Regions from separate parts of the Homo sapiens genome. Here region 2 is linked to region 1. Evidence: fine-mapped QTL for protein levels in blood plasma. A gene starts in region 1. The other region holds a variant in brackets. All regions are shown on one strand. Distances are between the middles of the regions.

The links. PIP is the chance, under the fine-mapping model, that this variant and not a neighbour inherited with it causes the effect. The UK Biobank Pharma Proteomics Project read protein levels with antibody pairs (Olink). The fine-mapping took linkage between variants from a reference panel, not from the people measured, so its PIPs are less certain.
Region 2: its variant is fine-mapped to the plasma level of the GLRX5 protein (UK Biobank, PIP above 0.99).

What each region holds. Positions count from the first base shown.
Region 1 is chr14:95,532,061-95,537,432 of GRCh38, forward strand. It overlaps GLRX5 (glutaredoxin 5), which reads left to right and starts at 2,990. Exons shown (of 2, transcript NM_016417.3): 1 at 2,990-3,324. The coding sequence starts at 3,030. SNHG10 (small nucleolar RNA host gene 10) reads right to left here and starts at 2,812. Exons shown (of 1, transcript NR_003138.3): 1 at 852-2,812. It also overlaps SCARNA13. RefSeq lists enhancers at 1,420-2,209, 2,210-2,999, 2,263-2,722 and silencers at 2,863-3,152, 3,363-3,422.
Region 2 is chr14:95,546,741-95,552,112 of GRCh38, forward strand. No RefSeq gene overlaps it. Among named protein-coding and RNA genes, the nearest start is that of GLRX5, 14 kb to the left of the region's middle. RefSeq lists an enhancer at 1,043-1,918. The variant G/A (reference allele first, on the strand shown) is at 2,109.

The sequences.
Region 1 (5,372 bases):
TGCTATCAAAATAGCTCCTTGAAAGAGCACCAACATGCTTTTCCATATCCTTAGCATTTCACACACTGTATGTTCTTATCATATTCTACAAAAACACGGCAACTTCACTATGATTTAGCAAAACACAGGCTTTGTACTCTTCCTTCTCAAGGATTACTCTTAATCTTTAATGGCAGCTGCATTCTCAACTTAATACAACGTTCAACAAATAAAAAAGACAACTGCTTCTGAGCCCAATATTATACATTAGGTAAGGAACACGATACTCCTCATTACTGTTCTGTCTCAGGATATAAGTTTGCAAATTCTTCTCCTGATCTCAGTCAACATAAAAGCAGAATTACAGTTTAGAGTGGGCAATGAGAAAGGTGGAATCAAAATAGACACAGGGAAGGCCATAAAGAGTTCGCAAGCATAAATGCCTGATAGCAAAAACGATCACAGAAGATTCCAAAACCACAATCCTGCACAAAGGCCATCTCAATCTTACACAAAAAATACTTCTGCAATGCCTGCCGAGCACCTGCCTGTCCAACCTGGGACTGGTGTCACCTTTGTTACTGATCCTTGTAGTCAAAAATAATTATCTCAAAACAATTATGTAACCCTCCTCATTTTTCCTTTAAAGACCTTTGTCTTCCTCTATCTCCCAGGATACACACAGTTAACTATCGCATGCATTTTCTCATTGCAGTGCTCTATTCCTGAATAAATGCCATTTTCTTTTAGAGAGCCTCTCTCTGTTCGTTATTTAAGTTGACAGCAACAAACAGTTTAGGTTTTTGGCAACAAATCACCAATATTTACTTAAAAACAAACAAAACACTTACAACACAGGTAGGAACAACAGGTTATTTTGGAAAGAGTTTAATATATTCTCTATTGTTAAGTGCACCAGATGCTGGACTTCTGAAACAACAATTATGCTTCTGCATAATAGCTTTTTCTACATATTTCTGTTCATGTTGCTTGTTCCTCTGATTTACCTGGAATCAATGAATCTGAAAAACAAAAAGATTCTTTAAGCACCTGGTAAATTTCAGGTCCCACATTAGAAAATGAGCAATCATCAATAATATTGATGGGGGTGAAAATATGACATTGAGACTTTCGGGTAATGTGCCGAGTTTACTTTCATAGTTTACTAGGCTCAGGTTTCATGCCGAAGGATTATTTGAAAGACTCACTCACTGACATGATTTTCTGATTTTAAATTCGAACACTCTCAAAGCATAAACAGATCACCTCCAGCAACATTGTAAAAAAATACTCAAAGTTTAAAAAAAAAAAAGTAACTTGTGGCAGTACTTAGTGTTCAACAGAAAACACTCCATCTGCTAAACAATATCTCGACTGCAAAGCTTCTCTTACTGTTGGCGGATAGATAATGACATAGCCCAGTCATTATCACCGTGGCAACAGTGACCAGAAACTATCAGAGGAAAATTGCACATGGAACAGCTGGCTCTCGAGCAGGCATGCCTCAGCTTCCTCTGGAGTATGCTTTTTCTGCAAGTCTGGTGTGCTCGAGGGTACCACCAACCCTGTGCGGCTCCAAGACTACAGATTATGTAGCAAGTCCACTGGTCCTGCTCTTCCGGATTTATTCTTCCCGCCAATAGGAGCACTTACCACGTTCCAAGCATCGTCCTAGGCACTGAGGATACAGCAGTGAATAAAACTGAGTGCTGGGTAGGAAGTCAATAACCAAGCTAGTAAATAACTGTATATTGTCAAGCACTGGTAAGTACAAGGGAGAGCAGAGCAAGCAATGGGCCTGATGAGGCTTGCTTTGTCTCCTCTGCACTCCCACACTGCTTTGTATCTGCTTCTCATTTCTCACGATGGGTCCAAGCTTTGGGCACCAGGTCTCCCTGGACATTCCGCGCTGGCACTGCGCCTAGCACCCAGCGGCTGCTCAGGAAACGTTTGTCGAACGAACGAATTCACTTCTTAGTTCCCCATTCAACAAACCTTTCCTGATCCTAGGCCCAACAGGTTAAAAGGCTGGAGGGCCAACGAGGCTGGAAACTCAGAGGCGGCCGGGGGCGGTGGCTCACGCCTGTAATCCCAGCACTTTAAGAGGCCGAGGCAGGAGGATCCCTTGAAGCCAGGAGTTCGAGACCAGCCTGGGCAAAAAAGTGAGACATCGACCCCCCGCCCCCGCCGCCAATTCCGTCTCTACAAAAAGGAAGAAAAAAAAAAAAAACCCAGAGGAAATCACACAGGCAAAAGCGCTTTACAAATTTTAAAAATGAAAACTGTTCTAGAGAAATAATCGCGCGCCGGAGGCGGAAGCCCCAGAGCCTCAGCTCCCACGTGGCGGCGGAGCCAGGGAAAGTCCAGGAGCCAAGGCTACGGCCCGAGCGCTGGAACCCCGGTCAGGCTCCGGCTCCCCGCCACGACGAACTGCATGCGGCCGCGGCGCTCCGGAGGCGCCCGGGGACGCTCACCTAAGCTGGGAGAGGCGGATACCCGCCCGGCCTAGCCCCGCTACCTCCCAAGAGACCAACACGACAAGCGCGCGCCCACCGCATTGCCATGGCAATTCAACCGCCGCTGACACCGGAACCGGAAACTTCATCAGGAGGTGACCCCTTCCCGGCGTTCCGCGGAACGGGCGAGTCCCGCGCCTCTCCCAGTTGTCTCGGCGTAGTCCAGCTGGCCTCATTGGCTCACAGGAGGAAAGTCGTCTTCCCTCTTGTTTTGCCTCTCGTTGCCCTGCAAGCGTGACCCTGATGGACATCCAGTCTCTCCAATTAACTAACAAAGCGGTTGCCGACGACCAATAGTAAGGCAGTAGGATGAGGCTCCGGCATAAGGCCCACCTCCTACCTGCCGGGCGGGACGAGCAACATGATTGGTGGAATCGAGTAATTACTGATCAGTATTGTCCAATCACGGAGGGCAGTTTAGAGCCGGCCCAATGAGGGCCTCCAGGGGGCGGGTCGGACTGCCGCGGGCCGGGGAGCGCTCTGGGTGGCCAGCTGTGGGCCCGGGCCGTCGTGGGCTCCGGCTTGCGTGCGGAGATGAGCGGGTCCCTCGGCCGAGCTGCGGCGGCTCTGCTCCGCTGGGGGCGCGGCGCGGGCGGCGGTGGCCTTTGGGGTCCGGGCGTGCGGGCGGCGGGCTCGGGCGCGGGCGGCGGCGGCTCGGCGGAGCAGTTGGACGCGCTGGTGAAGAAGGACAAGGTGGTGGTCTTCCTCAAGGGGACGCCGGAGCAGCCCCAGTGCGGCTTCAGCAACGCCGTGGTGCAGATCCTGCGGCTGCACGGCGTCCGCGATTACGCGGCCTACAACGTGCTGGACGACCCGGAGCTCCGACAAGGTCAGGCCAGTGTGCCGGGCAGGCGCCCTCCGCCCCGGGCCCAGGAGCATCGCTGCACGAGGCCGAGGGGTTCCGCCGCGCCGGGCTGGGGAGCGGGGCTCCATCCGCCGGGGTCTGTCTGAAGGTTCGAGCCGGGTTAGGGCGAGGAGTACTGCCCTGGAGTAGAGTCTGGGCTGAGGGTGTAGTTGATTTCACTGGGTCTTGAGGATCTGGGGCTCTGTACTGTTGCCAACTTGAGCAGTAGGTAAAGTCCTAAAGGTTCACTTATCCTCACTTCGAGCTAATATAGGCGTTTCGGGGCGATTTGTCAATGACTGACTCGGAGGAGGGTGGCCCGCTGCCTGACTGCTCTGCACGGTTAGGAAACTCATAGTAAGGACCCACTGTGAGATAGGTACTTTCGCGGACACTTTGGGGAGGTTGGAAGCCATTGGCCTACTCGTGGGTAAGGTCTAGGGCTGTCGATGGTGGGGAGAGGGCTGAGGTTGCCCTTGAGGCTAGTGAGGTCGGAGGCTGATCTCGCTTGGCTCACGGCTCAGGGTGTCAAGCATCATCCTCTGTGGTTGCTACAAGCAAAGGGTTGGGACAGCTGTCGGCTGACCTTAGTCGGGATCTATGTTGTCGGGGAAGAGTCATGACATTTGGCTTTAGATACTCAAGCACAGGGCTGAATTTATGTGGGCCAGGGCTTGGAGAGGTTTGTGGGGAAAAGAAGCAGCCCTGGCTCCTGGGCCCTGGGCTAACTCACTGGCTCAGCCTTGGAGCCCAGGGGGCCAGGGCACCAGGGACCAGATGGATTAGGCCGGGAGAGGGAAGGCTGCAGCTAATAAGCATCTTTTCCAAGTACTCCACGTGCATTCGCCAGTCTTATCTGAGTAGGGGAGGAGGAAGAGGCCAGGCACAAGGGCCTGCTCCTTGGCCAGGATGGTCAGGGTTGGTGGAAAACTGGGAAGGCTGTACCTTTTCCTTCTAGAGAGTGACTTAGGATACCTGCATCCCAGTTAGAGACTTTCAGTGACTGAGTCCCTGCATGTCCCTAGCTAAAAAGAGGTGCCAGTTGTGTGCTAAAAATAGGTGCCAGGTTCTCTGTTACTCTAAATTCGAAATTACTAATCATAGTCATTGCTTACAATGATGAGACAGGCTGGTGTTTGGAAAAGCTTTGGGTTGACATCCTCTTCTGTGGCTAATCAGGTGTAAAACTTAAGTCACTCACCTGCATTTGAGGATAATGAGACAATTTGGCAAAGTTTGTGTTAGGAAGCCAAAGTAAAAATTATAGAAAGTGTGTATTATTTTACCTGGCACAGAAAGCACCCGGTAAATGGTAGCTGGCTTCGTATTAGCACTTGATGGTTTTCAAATGTATTTTTTCCCAGATTATCTAGTCCTTAAAGACTCTTGGGGATAACTGATCCTCCATTTGCTGTAGGTGATAGTGGTGGTGGGTGGGACCTAGAAAGCATGTTGAGTTGAGGAGTCGAGAGGGCAGGTTCAAATTACCACGTATATGTAATATTACCATGTGTTATTCTCATGACCCTTTTGTCTTCCTTGTCAACTAGTATGCCACCAGTTACTGGGCTCAGTTTTATCATGTGCAAGGCAAGGGACCTGCAGTCTTCCTTCGAAGACAGCTTCTCTGCTTAAAAGAGGAGTAACTATTTTGCAGTCTTTTGACAGAGACCTTGCAGGGAGTCCCCTGCAAATTGCCAATATGGCACTAGTAAAAAAGTGGTGTTGTTATCTCGCTTAGTATCATGTTTCGAGGGTCTTTGGTTTGTGAATTTATTTTCTCTTGTTTAATATAACTGGAAATGAGATATGCTGGAATATAGCTAGTAAACGGAAAATAGGAGCAAAAATACGAATATGTACTGATAACATTTTATTTTTCTGTCTTTTATCCACGTCTGGTGTCTGGTTTCTGAGCTTACTTTCTTAAGTTTTCAAACAGCAGCGACAGGAATTTAACCCTTACATTCCTTGACCACTGAGTTTCATCAGATTGCTATTTTGGTTAATAAACGCGTTGCATATATATTGAA
Region 2 (5,372 bases), 15 kb after region 1:
CAAGGTTTCATTGGTGCAGATTGATTGATTGATTGATTGATTGATTGATTGAAAAAGGGTCTTGCTCTGTTGCCCATGCTGGCGTGCAGTGGCCTGATTATGGCTCACTGCAGCCTTGACCTCCTGGGCTTAAGCAATCCTTCCCACTCAGCCTCCTGAATAGCTGAGACTTCAGATGTGCACCACAACACCTGGCTAATTTTTTTATTTTTTAGAGACAGGGTCTCTGTGTTGCCCAAGCTGGTCTTGAACTCCTGGCTCAAGCGATCCTCCCACTCTGGCCTCCCAAAGTGTTAAGATTACAGGCATGAGCCACTGCGCCCAGCAGAAACAAATTTAAATGTGAGGTGAGAAAGCTTTCATGTGGGTTCCTGAGAGCCACCGACAGGAAAAGATATATATTAGGGGATGGCCACACAAAACACTGATTGTTTTAAAAATTTAACATTCCACTTAAGAATTGTTTAGTAAATCTAAAAAGCAGCTTTAAATTGTGCCTAAGAACCATATAATAGCTACTATGAAGCAGAGCAGAGGAATGGTGAAGAGAAAAGCCATTTTAAGGTCCAGGGGCTTACAGAGACGCATGGGGTGACCAGGTGGACTCTTGTAAAGCCACATTCCTGTCTTATTTCCTGAGAGTAGCATCACTTTAGGTCTGAAAGCTATGTGGGCATTTTGCGTGAGGGGAGCATTGTTTTCTTGGCGGTTGCCCTGGGAGCCCAGTGCAGGTGAGCTGAGGGCAGAGTCTCCCTTAGGGCAGAGATGCCACTGAAGGTGCACCTCACCTCAAAGATCCCTATCCTGGATTCAGTCAGAATAGCCATGTTATTCTCCTCCTTGTGAACCTCCCGGGGCACCCGGTTGTGTCACAGTGAAGTCTCTCCTATCCCAGAAAGCCTTCCCTGACCCCAGACGGAACAGACCCTTTAATCCACTCTACAGCCCTGTTCTTTGTTCATCACTCCAGGACCTAACTGCCTGTTACTTGGCTTTATTCAGATCCCCTCTGGCCAGCATACAGAGTGCCCCAAAAAATACATTTAGAAAAGAGTGAAGAATTTCCTTTCTTCATTCCTTTTGGATTAGTCACAAGAAATGTTAGGCTATTACAGGTTACAGCCTCGCAACACCGCAGTAGCTAAGAGCCGGGACTCAAGTCACCCTCCCTGGGTTTGCATCCCAGCACTTGCTGGGTGTGCTACTGACCTCAGACGACTTAGTAACCTCCCTTCCTGCTTAAGTGGGCAAATAGCAGATGCCACCGACCTCAGGCGTGTTACAAGCTTAGATGACAGCACCCTGTCGAGACCATGGCTCATAATGAGCTCTCACTGTAAGTTGACCTTGACAGTTAATGTTGGATTACACCTGGACTTGGTACCGCGCTGTGGTATCCACCACCGTTCGGAGGGTTTAAGGGAGCAGAGAAGGACAGGCTGATGAACACAACATCGTTCATGTTTGGTTGCCCCTGGAACATAGAGACTCATTGTTGAAGGCAAAGGACAGATCTAATCCTTGTGATGATCTATCAGTGGACTGCCCAGCAGCCCTAGGGGACGGCAGGGCCTTCAGCCAGAAAGAATTCCCTGTAAAGTATCTTTCCTACGATTATAGTTTGACTTACTGCCACCGAGTTTTATTTTTAAAAATACTGCTTCTATTTCATACCAAAGTGGAGAGTCTTTTCTGAACCGATATGTTAGACAGTTATTGTGTTGAGTTATGCTTCAAAGAATGCAGTTTAACCTTGAGCTAATTCTAATTTAGCAGTAGCAAGGATTGTGACACTGGGTTCTACTGTACCTCATTAGCCATTTTCACAGGGATTCGTTTTGCCAGAAAAAGGAGGTAGAAATGTTCGCCGGTTCCTAGGAAATTTGGTGAGCAAATATGGAAAGTATTTCCAGATTATTGATGTGTCTTCACTAGTCCTGAGCAAGCTATCAGCTTTGATCATCACCACCACCGATGAAGCAACCTTCCTGGGGAGGCCATGCTGAGCCCGAGTCTATGGGGACCTCTTCTGGCTCCAGACCCAGGCTGGGCAGAGGCTGAGACTTCAGCTGGGTGTCAGATACCCCTCACCCCTTGCCCTGATCTTG[G/A]GGGCGTTAGGGTGCTGTCAGAGTCTGACATAGGTATTAAAATATTTCAAATCTCAAGGAGAACTTCAGAGTTCTTCAGTACATTTACAAGTAAATTGTAATCCTGGGAAACTAGCAGCACACTTCCTGTTATTCTGGCTTCTTAAATTCTTTTGTTTTTTGTTTGTTTTTGAGATGGAGTCTCTCTCTGTTACCCAGGCTGGAGTGCAATGGCGCGGTCTCGGCTCACTGCAGCCTCTGCCTCCTGAGTTCAAGCTATTCTCCTGCCTCAGCCTCCTGAGTAGCTGGGATTACAGGCACCTGCCACCATGCCCAGCTAATTTTTTGTATTTTTAGTAGAGACGGGGTTTCACCATGTTGGCTAGGCTGGTCTCAAACTCCTGACCTCGTGATCCACCCGCCTGGGCCTCCCAAAGCCCTGGGATTACAGGCATGAGCCACCGCGCCTGGCCTTTAAGTTGTTTTTTAACTTTTTTCCATGATTCCTTAGTAAAGTCTCCTTAAAATGATTCTTGGGAGAGCAGAGGGCAAGGGGCAGTGTCAGTTACACCTGACTAAGTTACTTCAGTTCAGGTGCACTTCGTACAAAGTGTGGTGGGATGTCCATGTCCTAATCCCTGGAATGTGTGACTGTGTTACCTGGGGTAAGTTTAAGCTGTGTTTAAGTTCAGGATCTTGAGATAGAGAGATTGTCTTGGATCACCTGGGTGGGCTTAATGTAATCACAGGTGTCCTGGGCAGGAGGGAAGCAGAGGTTGGAGTGATGTACTCTGAAGAGGGCGGAAGGGGCCACAGGCCAAAGATCGCAGGCAGTCTCTAGAGCTGGAAAAGCCAAGGAAACGGATTCTCCCCTGGAGTCTCCAGAAAGAACACAGGCCATGATTTTAGCCCAGTGAAAGTCATTTTAGACTTCTGACCTCCTGCCCTGTAAGATTAAAAATTGGTGTTAAGCCACTAAGCTTGTCATTTGTTACAGCGGCAAAAGGAGACTAATACACCTGGCTGCCTGGATTTTATGGTGGATGCTTACTTGGTATAAGCAGACAGGGGGAAGGGTCAAACAATTATTGAGCATTTAGATCCGTAATTTGTTTCTCACCAAAGATCTGCAAATGTGGGATATTCTCTCTTCCTTTCAGATGATGACACAGAGACTGGGAGGGGGTCAGGTTACTTGTCCAAGGTCACTACCTGGTGGAATTTGAGCTGTGATCAGATCCATATTGTAGCACCCTTCGGAGGGCCGGCTCAGTGAGTGCAGCCGCTTAGTGCAGCTCTGGCTGTGGTGTCCAGAGTGTTCGCCCTGCAGCCCTGAGAAGAACTGAATTTGAGCTTCAGTTGCCTGTTGAAAGAGCCAGGGAGGCCAGGAATTTTGGAAGTTGCCCCTGGCCATCCACTATCAAGTATGTGAAGGAAGCAGAGGGTCCCACCTCTGAGGTCAGACAAATGGAAGGTGAATGCAAATGATGCCTCCTTGCAAATGATGCCAGGGAAAGCCTCCTGGGCCCCGTGTGTTGTGCGGACAGGTGGCCAGGCCAGAGGTCCCACTGGACTTCACTCTGAAATTCCAGACAGCAGGAAGTAAACAAAGTGCTTTACGAGCGAGTTCCCGCGGTCTGCTGGTCTTTCCCTGCACTTCCGTCCGACCTCGGTCACAGCCCTGGGTGGGGTCAGATATTTCTACCCATACTCAGGGCCACCTGTTGCCCCAAGTTCTCACTTCCTGGCAGTGTCCCTCTGCTAGCCCTTGCTGCTGCCCCCACCTTCCTCTGTCTGCCCGCCACCCCCCAGCCTTTTCCTTGGTCACAGTTGTCCTTTTGTTACCTGCGGTTATCAGAAACATGGTCAAATAGGGTATAAGCTTTTAGTATCCCATTCATTTGAAATTTTAACCTCGTTTTTAATAAAACAATGCATGCATATAATTAGTCAAATGATACTTTAAAAACTACAGTAATAATGAAAAACAGCACTCTCCTGCCTTTTGATCCATGGGTCCTGCTCTCTATAGGAAACAAATTTCCATTTCTTAAGCAGTTTCTTCTGTTTCCCTCCATATTTCATTTTCCTTTCTCTTCCTTTCTTTTTTTGTTTTGTTTTGTTTTTTGAGACAGGGTCTCACTCTGTTGCCCAGGCTGGAGTGCAGTGGTGCAATCACGATTCACTGTAACCTCGACTTCCCAGGCTCAGGCGATTCTCCCACCTCAGCCTCTCAAGTAGCTGGGAATACATGTGTGTGCCACTACGCTCAGCTAATTTTTTGTATTTTTAGAAGAGATGGGGTCTCACTGTGTTGCCAGGCTAGCCTCAAACTCCTAGGCTCAAGAGATCCACCCACCTGCTGGGTGGACCCCAAAATGCTGGGATTACAGGCGTGAGCCACTGCACCTAGCCAATATTTTTTAATGTGCTTATATTGCTATTTCTTTGCTAATAAATCAGATATTATCTAATCTCTTTGCCATTTTGATAGATAAGAATGCTCTCATATAATCATCAATCTACCCTACTTCTCACTGTTCCCTATACAATTAGCGCAATCATCAGTCTTTACATTATTATTGACAATATATATGTTAGTGAAATAAATATATATAAATAAGCAAATGCTGTATTCCTTTTTTTAACTTTTATCTCCATTTATTAAAAATTGCCTTTTTTTAGTTGTTTATTTTCTATTTGATTATTTTGTATTGGATTTTTATACAGTGCACAGGCATCTGCCAAATACCTGTCAATAAAGTTTTTCAACAGAAGCATCAGATAACTCATAGTAGCCCTTGCCCCCTGCCAAGCTCCCTCCTGGAATCCTCCACCCTCCAGCTGCCCTCTGATGTCTATCATCATCCTTGCTCTTCCTGTGTTGAGTTTTCTGTTCCCTGTGTCCCGCATCTTGGTCTTTGTGCTTTATTCCTTTGCTCTGCTGGAGCACATCCTGCCAAAGCTTCCTAAAGAAGATGCATGGGTGGTTCACTTTTTGAGACCAGGTCGTTGGAAAAGGTTTCCTTACTCCCATACTGTTACACAACTTGGGTCTGCCTGCTCAGCACAGTAAGACCAGATATCCACACTGAGGCTTCGCAGCAGTAGAAAGGAAGCCATTTATTTGCAGGGCACCATGCAGGGAGGACCAGGAAGCAAATGCTCAAATCCTGACTCCCCTGATGGCTTGTGGGTAAGGGTTTTTAGAGGTGGGGTACATTTCAGGAAAGTGGAAGCTACAGGCATAATCATGAATCAATACATAGAGATTACACATTGGTT